Linked DNA regions of Homo sapiens. The protein of the gene in region 2 interacts with the protein of the main gene of each other region in a biochemical or structural test. Each region holds a gene or a part of one and is shown on either strand. Other genes may lie near its edges. The genes, in order: UBXN10 and TRAF3IP1.

Region 1 (6,994 bases), on a different chromosome or scaffold from region 2:
CTACCTTTCTGGCACAAAACTTTCCTCATCTATCAAATTAGCTAAATGATCTTAGAGGTATTACTTAAGTACCTCAGAACATCAGTCTTTTTGTCTGTAACATGAGGATAATAACATGAAATAATGTAGGTAAGGTGGGAAGCACCAGGCTTAGTGCATGGTAGAAACTTAATTAAATGTTAAGCGTTTTTTGTTGTCGTCGTTGTTTGCTTCGGGTTGTCTGTTTAGTGCTTCCTATGTGCTAAGTTCAAAAGCCTTCCTTGTTTTGCTCTAGAACTTTTCCCCGTGTGTCCTCGGTGATTCTACTCCTGGTTAACCAGCTGGGTGAGTCCTGAAACTCATGCCTGCCCTGTCCACTGCACAGAAATGCAGGGAGGTGGACTGCAATGAGCTACCACCTACGCAGTTGCCTCAAAACATGTGAAAATAAAATCCCGAGTTGATCACTTCTCTTCTAATTCCACATTTTACTTACCTCAGATTCACTTCCTGCAGAATGATTTGCACTTCCTGCAAATTCACTCCTTTCATCACAAAATCTTGAACAATGTAATCTGAGCCTCTCAGGGTTTGTATTCTAACCTCACCATTCTGCACATGTAACCACTGCTGCCTAATTTTAAGGAGTATCTGCTTCCTCTCCACTCAGACCAGGACCAAACGCAACACATTATCCCTATATCTTCCTGATGTCCTGCTCAATTCAAAATCTTGGACAAAGCTACCCTCTTTTAAAGGCCTCTATGTCTGCTGCATTCCACTCACAGCCTGAGTCTCTCTCCACTCCCATTTTCCACTTCTCCCTCGTCTTTCACACCCAGTCTGGCTGCTAGTAGCTCAGGAGCCTTCTCCTTAGCAAACTTTTGGCATCAAAAAAGACTGCCCATCTCCTTGTTAATTTCATCTATTTTCTGATCAACTGTGAAGAATGTGTTTTTCCCCCTTTAGTCTCCTTCTCAAGTCTTTCTCTGGCAATTAGCAGCTCTGCACTTTCACTCAGGATGGCAGGAGAAGGTCATAACTGTCCAACTGTTCTGCCAAAGATAAGCTCCACAGGCAAACCCACGCCCCTCTCGGCCCACCCTCCCCACTTGTGGAATGGCTATTAATTTGCCACAGCTTCTACAGAATTATCACAGGCTTGGCTTCCAACACCCACACATGCCTCAGGAAGGTTTAACTGTCAGTGAGTTTGGTAACTTAGAAACCTCTTCCTTAACAACTTTGATGAGGAGAGTCATGTGTTCTCACAGGCTCTCTGTGGGATTATTTTTAACAGTAAAACTTGAGTATGTGCATGCACTTTCTATACCTTTTGGTTCCATATAATTATCCATGTTCAGGGGGTGTCATATTCAAGACACCCTGGTCATAAGATAACATGACTGTGAGCTATCTCAGAGAAAAACCTCAATTATGACTAATTCCTAGGAGCCCACTCATGGTTATTTAGAGACTAACACCTCCTTCAGGTAAAACCATTATATCCAACCTGCTTTCATAACCCACTGCCTCCTCCCGAGCACAGGGACCATCTGTTACACGGAGGGAACACCAGCTCTCCCCAGCACCCATCACACAGGGATGGGCGGTGGGGGAAACAGGTGTTTGGGGATCTGGGCCAACTGTGCCTTTATATTCACACCTCAGGTCCTGAACTCTGCCCACCACCCTCAGTCCAGGATTGAGGCAGCAGCCATGATTCTCCCTGCTCAGTTCACTTCACCACCTCTAGGCCTGGCAGCCACTCAACCACAAACCGATTTGACAAGATCTAGGCGTAGGCATCTATCAAGCTGCCAAGCTGAATAGGCGAGTGGCCTGTTTACTTAAACACAATAGCTGCACCCCAGCGGCCTGCTAGGAGTCAGGAAGCAAACACTGCCAACTGTTTCCAAGAAGTTGCCAGAAGGGCAGGTGCCCATTCCTTAAGATTCACCACCAAATCAACTGGAAAGAAGGAAATGTGGATAGGAGAAGCTAAAGCAGGGCTCCTGCTTTCTAAGGGTGCCCACCACCCACCACAGGGTCAGACCACCCTATTTCACTCACAACCCAAATCTAAGCCTACAGTATATGCAGTAAAATATAACCACCTACATACCATCTGCTGGTATATACCAAGATACATACATTTGAATTGGTCTTTTAAAACTGTATCAGTTAATCCTATCCGTTGCCATCCCGCCCCCCCCAACCCACACCCCCACCAGGCTTTCAGGATAAAAATGCTCTGAAGAACCAACAGGAGATGGTGGTTGGCCTGAGAATGAAAAAACTCTGGTACCATTCCCAGTTCTACCCCAAACTAGGGATTAGAATACACTGTCCTATGCAGAGTGCCACACTGAACCACAAGCCACCAAGTGATCAAATGTTTGGATAGAGAACTGGGGATGATTCCAGCGTCAGAAGGGCAGGGAGGTGGTGGGGATAACTCAATTAAGTCCAAGTTCCAGCGCCCTAGAAGGCAACAGGCTTAAGAGGCAGAGGAGGGATCTGGGGGAGGGGCGAGAAAGAGCGTTTAGAAAGCGAGAATTGACTTCAGAGAAAGAGCACAGGACTGGGGGAGGGGCCCTCTGGTTCTCGTCTCTGCCCTGCCGGAGACTGGGACATCCTTTTCTCTCCCTGGGTCTGTGTCCCCGTCGCTACATCCCAGCCTGGAGGGCATGGCCCAGCGGTTGCATAGGTCCCTCGGTTTCTGCAGAGCCCGGGAGTCACCCTATTTTGGTAAAGGTGAGCTCTGGCCAGGCTTGCTTTGCCTCGGGAGCAGACTTTTCTCCAGGCTCCTCGCCTGTCTCCCGGGGTTTGCGTCCCCCGGGCTGGGTCTGGGGAGGCCCTCCCGGGTGATGTGCTGGGGTCTCGGGGACTGGCCTCCCCCGGCCCCTTCCAGGCCTGGCGGAGGCCAAGGGCAGGCCGCGGGATCGGGCAGCCGCTCTCACCTAGCCGTTCCGCTCCATCCGCCGCCTGCGCCCGGGCTCTGTCCTGCTGGTAAACAACCCTGGTCTCCCGGGCAACGCCGCAGGGTGGGGGGCCACGTGCTTCCGGCGTGACCGGAACCGGCCTGGGTCGGGTGGGGTCGGGTGGGGTCGGGTGGGGGCCGCTGGGCCAGGAGGGCGGAGGCCGTGAACTCCAGGTCGGTGGATTGCGAGCCTGGAGTGGATTGCCTGGCCTGGAGGCGACAGGGACCCGCGGCCTCCTTCTCTCCTCCTCTTCCTAGCGTCACCGCCTCTGTTTCTCTCTGGGGGAGAGTGTCTGGGAGAGGGAGAGCCCTGGCCGGGGCATGGAGGAGCGGGGAGCAGCACCACTAGTCTCAAAATCCGTTTCTCACCTTGGGTCAGGCCCTGACCCTCTCAGTGTCCCTGGTTTTAAAATGAGGCTGTGGGACTGATGGATTCTCGGAACCCTAAACTCTGAGTGGATGCTTCTAGGGTATCTGAGTTGCGGGGAGCAGGGCCCCCATCCTCAGTACAGCCCTTTCAGCGCCAGTTCCCTGACCTCTTTTCACATCAGCCTCCCACTCCGGGGCCACACTGGGAACCTTATCAACAGCATCTGCACCTCCTTTGATGTCCCCAGCCACAATCTCTTCCACTTCCAGCCACTTGAGTCACTTCCGCTGTATCTGTTTTTCACCATCTTTGGGTTTCCTGTCCATTGCTGTCTCCGCTTTCCCCCTCGATATCAATCTGCTTCTTCCCTATCCTGGCCCATTACCTCGGCATTCTCAAAAGGATCCTCCCTGCCCGAGTCCTACTCTCCTTCCATCTGATGAAACCTGAAGCCAAACCAGTCCACCTACACACGGGTATTGAAGAAGTCTTGGCCAGCCACACACCTTGGTGTAACAGAAACACGAGGTCTCTAACCTCAGTTAGACTCTCAGCCCTGCACTTCCATCCCCAACCGACCACTGGGTTCTCTCTCCCTCCTTTCTTCTTTTTCTTCCTTTTTTAAGGGGAGACAGGGTCTCGCCCCTTCACCCAGGCTGGAGTGCAGTGGTGCAATCACAGCTCACTGCAGCCTGGACCTCCCCAGCTCAGCCTCCCTTGTAGCTGGGACTACAGGCGTGCACCACCATGCTTGGCTAATTTTTATTATTTTTTGTAGAATGGGGTTCTGCCATGTTGCTGAGGGTGGTCTTGAAGTCTTGGGCTCAAGTGATCCTCCCGCCTCAGCCTCCCAAAGTGCTGAGATTACAGACATGAGCCACCTCGCCCAGCCTCTCCTTTCTTCTCAATGGCTATTTCAAAACGTTGTTTTGCTTGCGAAACCTCCCACCTCTCCCTCTCCCACCTCCCTCCCTCCTCCCTCTTAGAAGATACCTTTACTGCCCTCTTCAGAGAGAAAATAGAAGCCATCATATGGAAACTTCCTCAGCCTTCTGCCATCAGACCTGCAAACTTGCCTGCCTACACTTCCTTGCTTTCCTCCCTCCCTCCAGTTCTAATGTCTTCTGATTCTCTCCAAGGTGAATTGCTCCTCCATGGGTCGTGAAAGAAGATCATGTCAGTGGTGGTGTTTCTGCTCGTCTCAGAAGGGAAGTCTGTGACCCGTGGGAGTTGCTGGGGAGGGCCTGGTCTGGGCCAGGCCTCTTCTTTGGGTTGCCCCCTCACACACTCTGGTCATCCAGGAAGCCTCTGTGGCCCTCGGAATGTGTAAAAGATGGTGGTTTTAGGAGCTGCTGGTTTTGCAACTGAGTGCTGACGGCTTATTTCTTGTTAATGATTCTGTCAAAAGTGTCTTAGCGATGCTCTTCAGCCCTTCATCACCCACCCAAAAAAGATTAAAGTGGATTCTTCATCAGCTATTTTAAAATCACCTAAGAATTATACAATCCTTTGGAGAATCAAATTGGCTTCTCACCGTGTGTGTGTGTGTGTGTGTGTGTGTGTGTGCGTGTGCGCACGCACGCGCGCCTTTGCCAGTGCACAGTGAAATGGCGGTCTGTTTAATGTCAGCAGTACATGCAGTTAACGTCAGCAGTACCTGCCTTTTGCTCTCCAGTGTTGTGTAATGCCCAGCCCCAGGGGGAGGCAGGAGAGGAGGAAAGGAAGGCGCCAGTCCATTGCTGTGCCTCTGCTGCCTTTGTGCCCGACCTTCTATAAAGAGGATGTCTTCAAAGGACAGACCTGATAATGCCTGGTGTCTGGCACATACCCAGAGTGGATCTCAGTAAACATGGGCAGAGGTCATTGCCCTGCCAGCTGAAATGTGGACTCACCTTCCTTTCTAGCCATGTCCCAATCTACTCTCCAGCTCTCTCCCTGGGCTGCAGCCAGCTTGCTCCCCAGATGGGCCCCAGCTTTTTCATCTCCAGTGTCTTTGCCCATGCCTGCCCCACCCTGCTCTCTTCCTTGAAGTTAAGCCAAAATGACTGATCCTTCAAGGCCCATCTTAAAAGCCACCTCTTCCGTGAAGCCCTTTCCTGACCACAGCCTCCCCACAAAAGCTCATGTGCTCTCTCTGGTCGCCTTTGGTCCAGTGGAACATGCCCAAGATGGTGCTGTGCACCCTCCCTAGGTCGGCTCCCTTCATCTTCACAACGCTCCTTAATGGAGGCATCATAGCCCTCCTTTGCTTTAGAAAACAGTGGAGCCTCAGGGTTCCCCCTGGTGAAGGAGCAGCAGAGCAATTTTACAACCTGCATCCAGCAGTTTCCAAAGCCCACCCTGGACCCCAGAGTCCCACCCCCAAGCTCCTCACCTGCGTGTTCCCCCATGGCCCTTATCTGTGCTGTCCGTTGCACTGGTCGTGGGGACTGCAGGCATGGCCTCTGACGTCAAAGCTTGAGTATCAATCCTGGCTCCACCACTTGCCAGCTGAAGACGTTAGGTAAATGATTTACCTTCGCTGGATGTCAGTTTCCGCATCTCTAGAATGGTGATGATAAGCACAGGATTGTTGTGCGGCTGAAATGAGGTAACACACGTGCCAAGTGCTTAGTGAGGGCTACTAACTCTTGTTGCATCATCTTCACTTACAGTGTACATCTCCTTCAGTAGGTTATGAGCTCCTTGAAGGCAGGAACTTGCCTGTCTCGGAATCCCCTGCCTTGTCCACACAATGCTTACTTTGTGATACGTGCTCGGCAATGATGATGGTGGTGCTGATTCCAAGGCTAGCGTTTCCACTGAGCGATCCAGCAAGCTGCTAACTGGTATCCTCCCCAACCATATTTGGCTTGGGGTCCAAATGACCTCCCCAGGGGCTTGCTGAAGGCGGGGGCCCCGGTTTCTTAGCGGCTTGTCCCCACAGAGTGTTTGGCCCCATTTTGAATTAGTGATTTCTAGATTTCAGAGTCTATAGCCAGTGTCCTGCTCTGCCTGTCCTTGGTCTCATTAGACATGTGGATTGAGATCATGGATAACCTTTAAGCAGAAGGTGAACCAGGTGGATATTCTAGTAGCAAGGCCAAGAGGCTGGCAGTTAGTCATGGCTCCTGTGATCAGCTTCCTAAGGGGATCTGCAAGAGGGAAGTTTCTGGATGATGAAACTTAACCCTTGAAGTACAGACATGGGTCACTTAACCATGGGGATACATGCTGACAACTTCATTGCTAGGTGATTTTTTCATTGTGCAAACATTGTGGAGTGTGCTTACCCAAACCTAGATGGTCTAGCCTGCTACACACCTAGGTTATATGGTATAGCCTGTTGCTCCTAGGCCACAAACCTGTACAGCATGTTGCCGTTCTAAATACTGTAACACAATGGCAATTGTAACACAATAGTAAGTATTTGTGTATCCAAACAGATCTAAACATAGAAAAGGTACAATTTAAAATATGGTATAAAAGATAAAAAAAATGGTATGCCTATATAGCGCAGCTACCTTATAATCTTATGGGACCACCATCGTATGTGTGGTCTGTCATTGGACCAAAATGTCATTATATGGTGCATGACTGTACCACAGCTTTTTATTATTTTCCCCGTATTGTTGGAAAATATCCAAAAATGTATAGCCTGCTTTCCAGTCTTGTTAAGCAGA
Region 2 (16,960 bases):
CTTTGTTTCTTCCCTACACACTTGTGCTTTAAGCAATCACCTAACTCCCCCTGCCCCGTTATCGCAGTGCTGCATGCGTGCACATGCATACACACACACACACACACACACGCATACACACAAGCACATGCACGCACACGCGCGCGCGCGCACACACACACACACACACACACACACACACACCAAAATCCTCCCTTGCTTCAGTGCCATGCACAAGGTCCAGAGGGAATGTAGACACTTGGGAACGACCTCTGAAAATAACACCCATTGCCCCAAACATCCTCGACTTCCTCAACTGGGTCCTTGAGACACTCAACAACCACCTGTGTGGCTCCGCCAGGACCAACCTCACTTCGAACCCGCTGCTCTGTCAGTACCAGGAAGTCCAGGCTCCCGTCCCTCGTCTCTCACGCTCCCAGCACACCCTCACTGTGGCCCACGATCCACCTCCTCAACACCTGCGCCCCTGTGCCTGCCGTGATCGGCAGGCCCTCTCTGTCCCGCCTTGCTCTCCAGGACACAGCTTCCCCACAGCCCTCAGCTGCAGCTGCTGCTCCTCCCACCGGCCTCTTGTCACGGGCCCAGAGGGAAGGTCAGTAATTTCCTTATGCTTGCTTCGGCTTCCAGATCACTCTCCCTAAAAACTGCCAACTTTAAATCTTGTCACCCTCGACCCCATCATTGCTGCCATCAGCTGCCAACCCATGGTCCCACCCAGTCCTCCTGGACCCGCCACTCTCACCAACGGTGCTCCTGTCTTACTTGTGATTTCAAGTATTGAGAAATGATCCTTCCAAAATCCTGGCCTTGGGTCCCTGAACCCTGCTGGGATGATCCCACCTCCCACACTCGACGCCCACTCCCAGGGGCACCCCTGTCACTACCACTAACAGCAAGCTCCAACCTCAAATCCAAGCGCCCCACTCCTTTACCACCACTATCTATATTCCCAGCTCACCGCCCTAGGACCTGACTCCAACAATCCTTCTATCCATCCGGCACCTTCAGCCTCTCAATCCTAATGCCTCCTCCTGACCTTCACCCCGAGGGCTCCTCCCTCACTCACTGGCATAAATCCCACATTGGTCATGACCGTGGCGCTTCCACATACTCCTACTCCTTCCCTTCTCTCTCGGTGCACTTGCTTGGCACAGCCGAGCCCTGTTTAATACAGCCTGTGCCCCCCAGTGCCTGTAGGTGTAGCCAACTGCAGCTGCAGAACAGGCCCCGCCACACCATCTTCTGTCTCTTTACGCCCAAGTCCACCAGATGCTGCCCTGAAGTCAGCTGTCAGCCACGGCCTCCGCCCAGGCACTATGGGCAGGCAGCCCATCCTCCTTTGTGGTGGAGACTGTCCTGTGCATTGTAGGAGGTTCAGCAACTGCCCTGCCCTAACCCCTCCCCTTCATCAGAACACCAGAAAATGTCTCCAGATCATGGCCCAGTGTCCCCAAAGTAGGATCACCCCTAGAGGAAAACCTCTGCTCCAGTCTCTTCACTAGCCCACTCTCGTGCACAGCGACTTCACCCAGCCCCTCTCTCCTCTGACACTCCTCTTCCCCCAGACCCTCTTACGGCTCATGAGAAAAATAAGTACCAGAAAATCACCTTAAGAATCTGCATCACACCATGTGCCGACTCCACCTCCGCGCCCGTTCCCACACCCACACGGGGACTCTGCTCCACCAAACCCCTGTCCCACGTCGCCTACGTCATCAATTTCCCCTTTCCACTGGATCATTCCCGTCATTAGAAAAATAATAACTCCCCTTGACACCACCTTTCCCACTTTCTAGTCTTATTCCTTCCCTTCTCTTTGTGGCAAAACTCCTAGAAAAACACATCTACTCCTGCCTCCAATCCCTGCCTCTTATTTGATCTGAAACCCACTCTGATCCATCCTATCTGTTGTTTGTCTTTATATTGCTTATGACTTTATTTTTTTTTTTGAGATAGTCTCACTCTGTCGCCCAGGCTGGAGTACAGCAGTGCAATCTCAGCTCATTATAACCTCCACCTCCCAGGTTCAAGTGATTCTTCTGCCTCAGCCTCCTGAGTAGCTGGGACTACAGGCACACGCCACCACGCCCAGCTAACTTTTGTATTTTTAGTAGAGACGGGGGTTTCACCACATTGGCCAGGCTGGTCTCAAACTCCTGACCTCAAGCCATCCGCCCGCCTCGGCCTCCCAAAATGTTGGGATTACAGGCGTGAACCACCAGGCCCAGCCTGCTTATAACATTTTGATCACCTTCTATTTTTAATTTTTCTGCAATTAAGCCCCTAATTTTTTTCCCCTATTTTTTCCTAATTCCCCTATTGTTTTCACGCTTAGAAAGTCTTCAATCTAGGGGTCAGAGAAATGCAGTCCAACATTTTCCCATAGATGTGAAGATGTATTTTACATGTATGCATGGTTTTTCTCTTTCATCCATCTGACATGTCTGTTGGCCTATGGTGTGAGGCGAGGGCCTACCCTCACTTTTTGTTCCTCAATAGCATGTTTCCAGCACCATGTGCTGCTTCCCTCCCCCTTCTCTTAGCGGAGGCACCATGCCCACTGGAGAACACACTGTGTGGCTGGAACTGCCCTGCTGAGCCAGCCTTACCTATCCATTTGTAGCGCCTCCATGCTGTCTTGCCGTTTGACCCGGGGAGGGGCTGGTCTTGCACTCCCAGGCCGAGGAATTCTTCTAAACCCAAATATTGGAAAACCAAAAAAGGAGTATGAAAGGCTTATACATTTCAAACTGGAAAAGAAAGCCCAGGTGAATGTTAACTCTCATCTCCAAGCCATAATCAATGTGCTGGTTAGGACACGCTACTCTGCAGAAGAGGAGGAACGTCCCAGTAACCCGACCAATCAGAAAGTGTCCATCTTTCCACTTGTATTTTCAGTAATTTCAAAATACCAACAACTGTCACTAATCAAAACATCACATAATTCAGCTATAATTTTGAATTCCCCTAAATCTCCAAAATATTATATCACTATATAGTGATATAACTCCAGTACAGAAAACTGATATACTTCTTGTATTCTTTGTATAAGTAATTCCTCATAAGTTAGCTCAAGCACTAAATAAATAGCAGCAGCCAGAAAGAGAAGCACAGCAGTGTCCTAGGTGTGATCACTCTGCTGAGGGAAAGGGATTCAAAGCACACAGACCTGATGTTGGATGAAAGCTCATTAGGAATTTCTGGAGTCTCTGGCACCTCAGACTTATCTTGGCCAGCAGGTCCAGCATCTCCTTCTAAACAAATGACAATCAATTAGCAATTCACAAAGGAAAACACACATAGATAACTATTTGAAAATACTATTTGCATCTGTATTTGCAGTTATTTGCAATCAAATACATTTGTAATTGCAAATACAAATGAGCAATTTTTCCATCAATCATGTTGATGAAGAGAAAATCGATGTCTGATATCTAAACTCAGTGAAGATTTGGGAAAATGGGCACACTCAAACCCAGGGAATACAAACTGGTTCAACTACTTCAGAAATAAAATTCAAAAGGCAGGCTGATCAACTGAGCACTTAAAGGAAATACAACCCAAGAGGAGAAATGGACACATGTCAAGATGTTCACCCATCGTCACTGGTAATACTGACAATCAATCAGTAACTAAGTAAATTATGGTACAGTCACATGTCAGCTCCCTTTTGTGTGAAACAATCCAGTACAGTAATATATCTAACAATTATATACATATGCATATATATATATACAGGGTTCTAGAAGAATATTCATTTAAGTTATAAGCAGTAGAATTACCAGTGCTTTTAATTTTTGTTCTTTTTTTTTTGCATTTTTAAATTTTTCTACATTGGTATACCATATTATGTTTATAATCTGAACAAAGTTTTCTTCATTTTGATAAAAAGAATTAATCAGTAAATAACAAGGCCTAAACTATTAAGACAAGTTTACTCCACTATTTAAAGTAAAAGGAATTAACACTTCAGAAAATAGTCAGAATTTGAATATTAGAAATATACTTTATATTCTGGAAAAAAATCCTGAAATGTATTGTTTTCAAACTTAAAACATATAAATTAAATTTCAAATTAAATTAGGGTAGTTGGCCAGGCGCAGTAACTCACACCTGTAATCCCAGAACTTTGGGAGGCCGAGGCAGGTGGATCACCTGAGGTCAGGAGTTCGAGACCAGCTTGACCAACATGGAGAAACCCCGTCTCTACTAAAAATACAAAATTAGCCGGGCGTGGTGGTGCATGCCTGTAATCCCAGCTACTCAGGAGGCTGAGGCAGGAGAATTGCTTGAACCCGGGAGGCAGAGGTTGCGGTGAACCGAGATCATGCCATTGCACTCCAGCCTGGGCAACAAGAGTGAAACTCCATCTCAAAAAATAAATAAATAAATAAATACATTAGGGTAGTTATGATCTTTTTCCATAAAATAAGTTACTTTCACTAATGCACTTTATAAAGCATGAATCTGAGAGTCCACATTCACATTCACACACATGCATACAATTGATATGACACACAGGTATCTAAGGCCATTCCTCACCTGCATCACTGGTGGAGTCACCTAAAGAAAAAGCACATCAGAAAATTAGCTTTCGTGTAGTCAACCTCAATACATTAAATGATGAGAACAGAATTGGAGAAAAAACACACTGTACATAATTTTGGATGTCTGCTAAGAAAAAAAGATCATTTCCTCATAGCCGCTTTTCTAATGTCCCTATTGCCATTTTGTTTTATTTTCAAAGATAGAAAAACAAAGAGCAAACAAACTGTGCATCATAAAATGGTACTAAATAGAAACAGGACACAGGGATGTGGAGAAAGCACATCGGAGAGGAAGTTAACAAGTTCATGAGACAAGAATCGACAAAGCCAGAGCCACAGAAAAAGTGCATCCAAATGTGAGGGAACGATGCAACAGTCTGAACCCGGCCAACCAAATCCCGGGCCGTTCCAAAGACTGGGAGACAGTCAACAACAGCCCATCTTATAGACATGATTGGTAAGCATTTTTCCATCAGCTCCTGAAAGCAGAAGAAAATCTTCCAGCTCAACAGAGGCCCACCTCTGCACCTTCACCCAGGATCCTTTTTCTTCAAGTGTTGTCTTGAGGACAAATGTGACCTAAACGGTCAAAGTAAATGAGCAGTGGCACCACAGGGGTGGGGTGATTCAAAACCACAGGTGGGAAATCTCTGTTTCACACTCTTAAGATGCACGAACGCATTTGCAGAAGAGCAGAAAGCGCATGGATTCACATGACAGCCCAGCACACTATACGGCAGAGAGGAGGCAGCAGGGCCTGATGCAGCGCCTCGTTTAACACGGCCCCGCCTCAGACAGGAACAGTTCATGCAGCCTCGAGAAATCAGCCTGGGTTATTGTGAGGGTCCACACCGAGCAGAGTGAGGAGCACTCTACAGACACCTCTAGCTCGTTTATTCACAGGAGGACTTTCTGTGAGCATAACAGCCACGAGCTCATAAATGCTGCCTTAAGAGGGTGGCTCTGGCAGGGAGAGAGGGGGCCAAGCTTGTGGATCAAGGGGAACCGGGAGGCTCTAGAGGACTCTATTAGTATGGGCCTGAGAACCTCCAGAGGTCACACCCCACAAAGTGCCACAGCACAGGGGGTAGCCTGGCACCCACCAGGGCCTAGGGGACTGGAGGGCACAGTGGTTAGCAGGGGGCTGGAGAATGTGGTTCCAGATAGTGCCACTACAAGGGCAGTTTCAGAGACCCCAGCACTTTGGGCCAATGGGGGCAGAGGACTCAGCTCAACCCTGGGATGGGACTGCTGGGGACCAAGAGCAGGTGGCAGAAGATCTTTTCCTCATGGCTGTGCGGCCTGGAGCGTGTGCTTAGCAGAAACCAGCACTGAGAGTCCTCGTGCGACCTGGGGGCAGGCAGCAGACACAGTTTCAAATCCCCGGCTCTTTCTTCAAAACACCAGGGTGTTAGGAACAGACCCTGGATTAACACAGCACTCAAAAAGGTGCCTGAGAGGTGCAGTTATTCAACCACAAGGCCGATACCCAGAAGGAAAGTCAGCACAGTGAACTCTCTACCTTTCAATGGATACTTCCAGTCCCCGTTACCCAGAACCCAAGGCACCTGCCACATGGCCCACACCATCCTCCCCGACGCCTGTGCTTCCACAGCGCCAGTGCTCTGCCAGCTCCTGCACTCACAATCTCGTCCTAGGTGACCCAGTCCCCACCCAGGCTCCTGCCATCACCCAGCGCCAGCAACTCTCACAGCTCCTCTCTAGCCTGGGCCTTCCCTCTACGCTCCAGGCCAGCTCCCCCAGCACGTGCCAGCAGCCCTGGAATCCTACCACTTCTCCCCTCCCAGGGCGCCTCCACAGTCCAGGCCTCTCTCTCTTCTCTGCACAATCTTTAACCCTCCCTAATTAACATGGCCACTCTTTAAAATCTAAATATCATTATACTGCTCCTCCTAAAGATATAATTAGCCTCCCGCTGCTCTTCCAATAAAGGCTAAACTCCATAAGCTGGCACAGGGACCTGGCTCTGGCCCTTCCTCTGGGCTGAGCCAGCCCTGCTGCAGTCGCATCCCAGCCGGGATCTTGGTTTATACAGCCCCTTCTGCCCTGCAGGCTTTCTGGGCCACCCTCACCAACCAAGGCCCCTCCCGTCCCAGACTGCCACCCCATCAAACGATTTCGGTTGATCTTCGAGCCTCATCTGCACCAGGAAGGCAGGAGGCCAGCCTGACTTCACTGGCTCATGCGCTCCCAGCCTCAGGGCTGACATGCAGTAGGCCTTCAACAGATAATTTTCTGTTTGAACAAATCAACAAACATCAGCCCTCCCCTGGCCACACCCCACCCTGCCGCTGCCACCTGCACAAGCCTTGGTTACCTGGGCACTGGTACCCTTGCAGGCCTGTTAGGAGCTCCAAGGCCTCAAAACACAAACATTGAATGGCTATTTTACCAAAGTTTTTTTAAAGGCTGAGAAAATTTATGGTGAAAGTAAAATCCCACTGAGGTATAATTCAACACTCAAAGAAAATGACAGACAGAAAAATCATGGTGGCCACAGCACTGTGACCATGAAGTCTGGGGGGTACACCTCTTGACTGGTGGGGCTCTCCAAGTAGTGACCCCGAAACTTTTCAGGGACCACTCATGACACCCCCCAAGTGATGAAACATGCCACCTCCTCTCACTTACAGAGCACGGGGGAGCACACGAGTGGGTCCCATGCTATCAAGAAACCACCATGTTCGATTCTAGTTTATGCAAAAAGGCAGAAGTGAATCACTGTGAATCACTTGCCACGTTCAGACCCAAGAGGAAAACCTCGGGCTCTGGGCTGCGGCCCTTTGAGAAGAAGGTTCTGGAGGGCTCACTCTGCTCTCGCCAGGAAAGGGCGAAACTGGACCATTCTTACCTTTCTGCTTCTCTGTGGGGTTGGGCTGAATATTCTCACACCGCAGACTAGCTGAATTATCATCTGAAATACTAGTTGAGTTAATATTAGCTTCTTTTGTTCCTGACATAAAACAGTTTAAAATTAGTCATTAAGACTGTACACCAAAGGGCCGGTGATCAGCGGCTTCATTAACATAGAGCACACTTACTTATCTATGTTTTCCCACACTGCAAGTTAGGACTGACAAAGGACTGACCAAAGGCAGCTTTTAGAAAACATGCATCTAGAATGTTCCTCCCCCATGGGCGGCTCTGGGGTGAAAGGGAAAGGACACCCCAGACTATGAGTGGATCCTTGGTCTACTCAGGCCAGGAGGAGCAGACTGCCCCCGCCCCCCATTTCTGGAGCTACCTGACACTGCCAGTCTCCACTCACCTCCCCAGTAGAGCCAGACCCAGCAGCTGAGAGGCTGCAAGTAGGCGGCTGTTTCAGGAATGCAGGAAGAAAAGAAAAATATTTTGGACACAGTGCACAGTCCTGGCCATATTGAAAACTTCCACATATTGTCTACTAATTACTGACTGATGTTCCAAAGTTTATGAAGATAGAAAAAATATCAAATACCTGAGAAAATATTTTTGCTGTGAAAAAAAAAACAGGCTGGGCACAGTGGCTCACACCTATAATCCCCGCATTTTGGGAGGCCTAGGTGGGAGGATCACTTGAACCCAGGAGTAAAGACAACCTAGGTAACACAGAGAGAACTCGTCTACACAAAAAAATATAAAATTTAAAAAGCTAGCCAAGCATGGTTACACACACCCGTAGTCCCAGCTACTCAGGAGGCTGAGATGGTAGGATCACTTGAGTCCAGGAGTTTAGGCTGCAATAAGCTGTGATCACGCCACTGCACTCCAGCCCAGGGCAAAGAGTAAGACCCTATCTCGGGGAAAAAAAAAAAAAAAAAAAAGGCCAAGCACAGTGGCTCATGCCTGAAGTCTCAACACTTTAGGAGGCCAAGGCAGGCACCAGCCTGGGCAACATAGCGAAACCTCATATCTACAAAAATTAGCTAGGCATGGTGGCAGGTGCCTGTAGTCCCAGCTACCCAGGAGGCTGAGGCAAGAGAATCACGTGAGCCCAGGAGGTCGAGGCTGCAGTGAGCCATGATCATGCCACCACTCTCCAGCCTGCATGTAAGAGCGAGATCATGTCTGAAAAAAAAAGGGTAGGAGCCAGGTGTGGTGGCTCACGCCTATAATCCCAGCACTTTGGGAGGCTGAGGCCGGTGGATCATGAGCTCAAGAGAGCGAGACCATCCTGGCCAACATGGTGAAACCCCATCTCTACTAAAAATAGAAAAATTAGCCGGGTGTGGTGGCACATGCCTGTAGTCCCAGCCACTCGGGAGGCTAAGGCAGGAGAATCTCTTGGACCCGGGAAGCAGAGGTTGCAGTGAGCGAGATCGTGCCACTGCACTCCAGCCTGGTGACAGAGCCAGACTCTGTCTCAAAAAAAAAAAAATAGGGGGCCCAGATGAGGGGCTAGAGGAATAGGTTCTATATTACAGCAGGACCCAGAGCTGGAAAACTAGCTTCAGTCAAAGGACCTACCACTCTAAAAAGAAACTGAGAGACAAAAATAAAATTGTAAAATGTTCCCTTTCCTGAAACACAATCTTATAATTCTTAAAACTATTCAAAACAGCTTACATCAGAATCAACCTGACATTAACTATCATATAACTGTTTTATTTATAATGTAATAGAACTACATAAAATAGATGACACATAATTTTGCAAAGACATTTTTATCAATCTGTGAAAATGATACTGACTTAAATAGTCTGATTCAAACAGTTATTTATATTTTACTCAGGGTAACCAGAGAATAAACATGAAATATTAAGTTCTTAACAAAAAAAAATCTAAAAATAAACATAAGTTTGGCGGTTGTAGATGCTCAACTTTAGAAGAAAACACTCTAATAATTTTAAGTTGTGTACTTGATTTCAAAGTGTCAAATGTTTTCCATACTCTACCATATTCACCATCACAGTAAGCAAATTATAAATGCATTATCTTCATTCTGTAGTTCAGAGACCAATGACACTTTCACAATTTTACCTTTTCAAAGTTCTAGTGGTATTCTTATGTAAGCTTTACTAAACCCCAAGTTCACACCGAGAGAAAGAACATGAAAACAGACTATAGCTCACTAATTATACCACACTGTAGAATCAATTCATAATCACAGAGAAGGGACTAACCAATTTGTCAAATAATAGTTTTAAACAAATAAATAATGCACTTATAAAATGAAAATGACGGCCAGGAGCGGTGGCTCACACCTGTAATCCCAGCACTTTGAGAGGCCCAGACAGGTGGATCACCTGAGCTCAGGAGTTTGAGACCAGTCTGGCCAACATGGTGAAACCCCATCTCTACTGAAAACACAAAAATTAGCTGAACCTAGTGGCACACGCCTGTAATCCCAGCTACTCAGGAGGCTGAGACATGAGAATCCCCTGAACCTAGGAGGTGGAGGTTGCAGTGAGCCAAGATCACACTACTGCACTCCAACCTGGCAATAGAGTGAGACTCCATCTCAAAAAAGAAATAAAATAAAATAAAAATGACTATGAATTGGCAAAATAAAAAAAAAAGAGTCACAGCATAAGCACAATCTGTTTTCTAGAGCTACCTGGTAACCAATGAACCTTGTAGGTGAGAATGTGAGCCCTGGCTCAAGACGCCCTAGGGTGGAACACTGGCGCTTCCTCTCTCCATGGGCTATGCTTTGGTCAGGTCCCTCAGCCTTCCTGAGCCGCAGTTTGCCCAGTTTGCCCCGCCTCACAGAGCCATCCTGAGTCAAATGAGATCTTGTGCATACAGCAAGGAGCACTGTGCCCGGCTGGGAGGGGCCAGTCCCTATCAGTCACTGTTATTGAAACTAATCAGACGTACGGCCCATAAATACAATTGAAAGAGGTCCATCATTCGGCCAGTGTTCTGCGCAAATTTTAGCTACACTAAGTTAAATGTCATCAAATAGCCAGTGTTTTTTTTTTAAAAAAAAAAAAAAGAATAGAAAAACATTTCTGGGACAATTAGAATACAGCTTGGGTTTTAGATGCTATCAGGAAGCAATAACTGAGTTCAGTTAGACAATACTTTTCTGGCTATGTAGGAAAATGTACTTTTTTTTAAAGCTGCATGTCGAAGTATTTAGAGATAAAGTGTTAGGATGTTTTTTTAACATACTTTGAAACAGTTCATTAAAATATGTAACTATATGCTGGGTCTGCTGGCTTATGCCTGTAATCCCAGCACTTTGGGAGTCTGAGGTGAAAGGATCACTTGAGCCCAGGAGTTCAAACCAGCCTAGGCAACAAAGTGAGATGCTCTCTCTACAAAAAAAAAAAAAAAATTAGCTAGGCATGGTGACACATGCCTGTAGTCCTAGCTAGTCAAGAGGCTGAGGCAGGAGGATCACTTGAGCCAAGGAGTTCAAGACTGCAGTGAGCTATGATCATACCACTGCACTCCAGGCTGAGTGACAGAGCAAAGCCCTGTCTCAAAAATACACATAAGAAGCCGGGTATCGTGGCACACACCTGTAGTCCCAGCTACTCAGGAGGCTGAGGCAGAAGAATCGCTTGAACCCGGGAGGCGGAGGTTGCAGTGAGCTGAGATCATGCCACTGTACCCGAGCCTGAGCAACAGAGTGAGACTCTGTCTCTGTCTCTGTCTCTCTGTCTCTCTCTCTCTATATATATATATACACACACACACACACACACACGCATAACTGTACATTAAGCAAAATGGCAAACGTAAAACTAGTGAATCTGGGTGAGAGGTATATGGGCACTAGTTGTACTATTCTTTCTACTTTTCCATATTTTTCACAATAGAAACAGTTAGAGAAGTAAGCAAAAATGAAATGAGGGAAACTAAGCAAAATAAAGACCTGACTTAATGTTCCAGAAAAACCTGGAACTGTCACACAATTGTAAAGCGAACAAAGCATGCCTTACAGCTTGCATAACAACTGGAGTACAGGAAGAAATTGTTCATGTTTTGAAAAAGAAATGGATAAATTCCTTGTTGAACTCTTTAATCCACCCAAAAAATCAAAATGGTAACAATAAAACCCACAAATTCTCTGATGATGACCCAGGCTATGGGCACAGGGCTCACGAGGGCCGGGTCAGTCAGTGCAACAAAGGCCGGCTTTGACAACATGGACTTTTCTTCGAAGCACTAAGAAGGAAAGGTACTGTGAGGACCAGCTCATTAACCAGACCCAATAGCAGTGCACCCTCAATGAAGAAATTAAGGAACTGTAACAACTGCCAGCAAACTCTGAATTCCAAATGTTAAACCATGACCAGTGCAAGGTAACACCTGCAACTGCGAGGACAGAGACCCCAGGTCCGCGCTGTGGCAGGACCCTAGGGGAGCAGGGCCAGGGTCGGGGGGAGGAGAAAGACAAGGGACCGGGAGTCTCTCCAGAGCCCAGACTCTGCTCCTGGCCACTGTTCCCAACCCCCCCGCCCCGCCACCCACCGCACACTGCCACCCAAGGACAGCGGGAGACTCTGCTCCCCAGCAGGTGGCATCAGGCTCCATCCCAATCTCTGCAAAAAGTTCAACCCAGAAACCACGTTTGCAGTTTGTGCTTCTTACTGCCTGGGTTTGTGTTATCTTCACACTTGTTGATATTACCTACACAGTCCTCACTACGTGTCTGGAGAATGATTTCAATTTGTTCTAAATCCATTGCCCATCTCAGGATGAGCGCTGTCTCGCCCTGATCTGGGGCTGGCAGCTCAGCAGAGGTGATCCGTGATAAAGCGGGTTAGACCGCGGCGTGCCTGGGGCAAGCCACCACTTAATGGACACCTCGTTCACCCTCAAGGCAGGTATCTTTACGCCCATTTATGACGAGGAAACTGTGGCTCAGAGAACCCACTCACGTGGCTGGCTCAAGGCCATGAGGCAGGTAAGCAGGAAGTGGGGAGTCATCCCTGTGGCCTCAGAGATGAGGTCCTAGCTAGCTGGGTGGGGGCTACCAGGAGTCCACCCCTCAGGCTTTCGCCACTGCCTGCTGCCCTCTCCTGCAGTGCAGGATTGCAGTGTGCCTGGGTGTTTCCCCCCAGGCGCCTGGAGATGAGGAAAGCTCCCACAAAAAGAAAACATACATCACCAAGATGTGGTTGAATGGTAACATGCATGCCTGTATGGCAGGGGCTCTCTTCAGTGGAAACACCCTGCTCCAGCTCAGTCACCTTTTCCTCCGCCATCCCATGCTACTGAAGACCCAGACAACTCCCATATAGTCACCCTACTTGGAATAAAATAACCACAGATCATCTTTCACACTGCGGCTGCTGTACCAAGTGCGCCCACTCCTGGAAATGCCAGCTCTCAGGGGAACGCACACAGAGAGAGAAGGATGTGCTGATCGGTATTCCAGCTACGCTCCAGAACGTGTAAAAGTCAGACAGATACAAGGCAAGTTGGGCCCAGCAAAAATTTCCTCTTCCCCTAAAGTCTAATTTTACACTATTTTTACCTTAAGTGAAACTGAAGAATTCTAGCATCTTGAAGAATTCCGTCTGAAGTCACAGATGACAGTGGTTACTGATACTGAACCAAGGACCACCCCCTCTGAGGCAGCAGGACGAGGGCTGGGCACACCCACCACACGGCTGGACTGAATGTGATTGGCTGTGACAGGCCAACTTCCCCAACGTGCCTAACTAGCACTTTAAACATCTCTACTGCGAGCATTTTCTGAGTAGAATAAAGCAGAGCAGGACGAAGACATAAAAACCGTTTCTCTATGTCATCAGCCACACCACTGTGAGATCCCGACAGCAAGATTAAGAAAGCATTTTGACTGAAATGTAAAAATAATCTATGTATAAAAAGGCATATAATTAACTAAAAGCTGAGTTAATAAAGTTACATAACTTAGCATATTAAAGCAAATAAAACCTCAAGTTATGTCCAGTCTTCAATACATCATGAAAAAGTCTCATGAACATTAAAGTAGTTAGAATAATTTTTTAACAATGTATAACTACATTGAGATATAACCATTCACATTAAAGTGGTGAGGAATTTAAACTAAAGAATATATTTTTCTTACCTATTTCTGATGTTGTCGTTTCCTGATTTGGCTCATTATTTATTCCAGACACTATGGAGTCTAAACTTTTAGCTGAAATATTATCCTCCTTCCTTCCTGACATAAAATAGTTAACAACAGATTAAAATATTATAAAAGATTTTGTGTTTGGTTGTTTTAGCTGGGATTTATAAGGGTTACATTACACCAAGGTCACCAGCAAACTGTCTTGTCAACTAAATGGTCAATTCTCAGCCTCCACATGATTCCCCTCCTTAGAGCTTGACAAGAAGCCCCCTCTCCTTCCCTAACACTTTCTTCCTCTCCAAGTTTTCCTCCAACTTGTTGGCCTTCTGTTTCCTTTGCAAGGATGATCCTCCCTCCTCCTCTTCCTCCTCCTCCTCTTCCTCTTCTGACCTGGGGGACCACAGCAAGCTCTGGAGTTCACCACGTCCTTTCCTACCTACACACGCCCCTGGACTAATTACTGCGCAAAGGTCCATGTCCGTAAACATCACTTGTATGCTAGAACTCTCCATTTTTTGTTTTTCCCTTTGGTTTCTCCAGCTCTCTCCTGATCTCCAAGTCAATATATCCAGCTGTCGACTAGATGTTTCTACTTGGTTGGTCCATAGCCATCTCAAATTTGTTGTCCAACACAGAATTCCTAACACTGCCACCCATTCCACCAACCAGTGTCTCCCAGAACCGTCTATGTCAATAAAGGCCACCCCCTAGGAGCCCAGACCCCTCCCACAATGAATCTCATCTTTGATTCCTTTCCGTTCAAACAAGTGGCATCCAACCTGCCAGCACAGTAAACCCACTCTGCTGTCACCACTGGCACTCTGGTCCAAACCATCACCTCCTCTCATCCAGATGCCATGGCCCCCTCCTCGCTGCGCTGCAGCCTTTACTCCTGCCACTCCACAGTTTTAAAAGGAGGCCTTCTACAACCTAAGTCAAATCTTGCCTCGGTGCTGCTTAAAACTCTTCAAGGACTTCTGTGTGCACTCACTGTAAACCACACAGCTGCTGTGGACCGGGAACAGCAGCTCCGGGACCAGCAGCTCCAGGCCCTGCTTCCTGGCCCGGCCCTTTCCCCTATCACTGTTCCTCTCTCCACCCACCTCACCACTCACACACCTGCATGTCCTCCTTCACCCAAGTCAGCTCTCTGTCCAGATGTCCTCCCTCAGAGAGGCCCTCCCTGCTCACGCCCCTCATTCCTGCTCCTCTTGGCTTCATTTTCCTTGAAGATTCATCACAAACTAACATGCACATATGTACCCCTGTGTTCTCTTTATTATCATAAATGTCTGCAGAATCAGTGAAGGAAGGCTCAAATGGACAATTTAAGCCTGTGATTGACTCAGGGTAGGAAATCCTCACCTGGCCAGGGGCAGCCCTGCATGGGGCCAACATGTCCCTCTGCCCCCTCTCCACCCTGGCCAGAAGGCAGTGTTCTAGAGCGCAGGCCCCAGGTCAAGCAGGGCCACACCTATGCCAACCACCCCCACAGACTTCCACATGTTCAATGACCAAGCAGAAGCACAGGACCAGGCAGTAAAGCTTTCAACTCTCAACATTCACTCACAGCCTCCACTATGGTTCACTTAGCTTACCAAGCTGTTTCATGCTATGTTCCTTCTTAGCTTTACAGTAGGAAAAGTTATGTTCCTTTTCAGGGGAAAGACTATTTTCACTGGTTTTAGGGTCCCTTCTTCCTGACATAAAATTGCACAATGAAAATATATATTAAACTTAATCTGTAATGTAATGTAAAGCAGTTAACAAACAAATGAAATTAAAATGTACTCATTAAGTCAAAGTGATCAGCTCTGTATGCACTACTTAGAAATAAGCAAAAATTATAATATTCTCAGGCAGAATGCTTTCTGGATTCTGCAGGGATTCCAGAATGACTTTAAGAGTCTAAATATGTTTAACAATGTGATACCCTCACACCCTGTAGTAAAGTCTCATTCATCCCCTTGAGCAAGACACAGAGGTCCAGTGTGTCACACACCTCTGGGTACTGAGCATTTGCCCAAATGAGAACCTACTTAAGCGAGGCAGAATGTTCAGGCAGAGTGCCAGCTTTGCTGGGGAACCCACAGGGAGGTCAGTGCCCGGCTAGCAGGAGGGGAAGACAGGAGTCCACTGAGCTGTTGATAGCTCAGGGAAGCTCAGTGTCAAAAAGCCCATAAATGTCTGCTAATAAAATCTCTTAAGACCATACAAAAGAACCCTAGAGCACAAGCTCACCAGTAAACACAGATGCACATATCAGAAGCAATTAGAAAAGAAGAGCAGATGATACAACTGTCTGCTTAGGAAAGCCAAAAGAATCAACAGAAGAACTACTGGATTAAGAGGCAACAACAGGCCAGGCACAGTGGCTTACAGCTGTAATCCCAGCACTTTGGGAGGCTGAGGCGGGCAGATCACTTGAGGTCAAGAGTTCGAGACCAGCCTGGCCAACATGGTAAAACCCTGTCTCTACTAAAAATACAAAAAATTAGCTGGGCGTGGTGGCATACACATGTAATCCCAGCTACTCAGGAGGCTGAGGCAGAAGAATCACTTGCAGTGAGGTTGCAGTGAGCCATGATTGCGCCACTGCACTCCAGTCTGGCAACAGAGTGAGACTCCGTCTCAAAATAAATAAATAAATAAATAAATAAATAAATAAATAAATAAATAAATAAAATAAAATAAAATAAACCAGCGAGCAACCACTGTGACCAACATACGCAACCAAGTACACGCAACGTGTTCTCAGAAGAGGGGGACACCTTCACTAAGCTGAAGTTAGAGGTGCCTAAACTTCCTAAACTAATGAAAGCATATATTTAACACAAGTCCAGTTAAATTCTGAGACGTTAGTTTATTTTGCAAGAGTGGAATTCTTGAGTCATGAAGAGTTTTTAAAATTCATCCGGAAGAATAAGCAAATAAGATGGCTTAAAACTTTTTGGAAAAGAACAATGATAGAAAACTAATAGTAAAAATAAAAAAGTGGAAGTAAAAAACACCACACACAAAAAAGCCCGTAACCCAGACTACAAAAGGCTTCACAGAGCAGGAGAGAAGCATTCAATGAATAAGTGATCCTGGAACCACGGATGGATTATTCTGACAAAATAGATTCAGAGCCTCACCTTATACCATGAATTAAAGTAAGAGATAACATAAGAAATTAAGTAAAAAAAAATGTATGATAAAGCACAAATCTTCACCTCTCAAATCTCTGGACAGATTACCAAAAAAAAGATTAGAGGCCTCAAGCACATAACAGTTTAACACTTAGGCAAATCAGAAACCAAACCAAATATAATTAGTAGAAACAAACTGAAAAAGAAACACTCATGCAAAAACTGGCAAATTGGCAGATGTCCTTAACATACAGCACGTGCAA

What was found.
Region 1: the proteins of TRAF3IP1 (region 2) and UBXN10 form a complex in vitro, tested with the Homo sapiens proteins (one study listed by BioGRID).

The regions. Positions count from the first base shown.
Region 1 is NC_000001.11:20,182,102-20,189,095, reverse strand, and holds the start of UBXN10 (UBX domain-containing protein 10), read right to left. Parts: upstream 3,001-6,994; 5' UTR 2,943-3,000; exon of another isoform or gene 476-2,942; intron 1-475. UniProt on the Homo sapiens protein: VCP/p97-binding protein required for ciliogenesis. Acts as a tethering factor that facilitates recruitment of VCP/p97 to the intraflagellar transport complex B (IFT-B) in cilia.
Region 2 is NC_000002.12:238,335,058-238,352,017, reverse strand, and holds part of TRAF3IP1 (TRAF3-interacting protein 1), read right to left. Parts: intron 15,267-16,960; coding exon of another isoform or gene 15,165-15,266; intron 13,657-15,164; coding exon 13,561-13,656; intron 8,218-13,560; exon of another isoform or gene 7,964-8,217; coding exon of another isoform or gene 7,837-7,963; intron 7,522-7,836; coding exon 7,420-7,521; intron 4,564-7,419; coding exon 4,543-4,563; intron 3,255-4,542; coding exon 3,170-3,254; intron 2,694-3,169; coding exon 2,610-2,693; intron 1-2,609.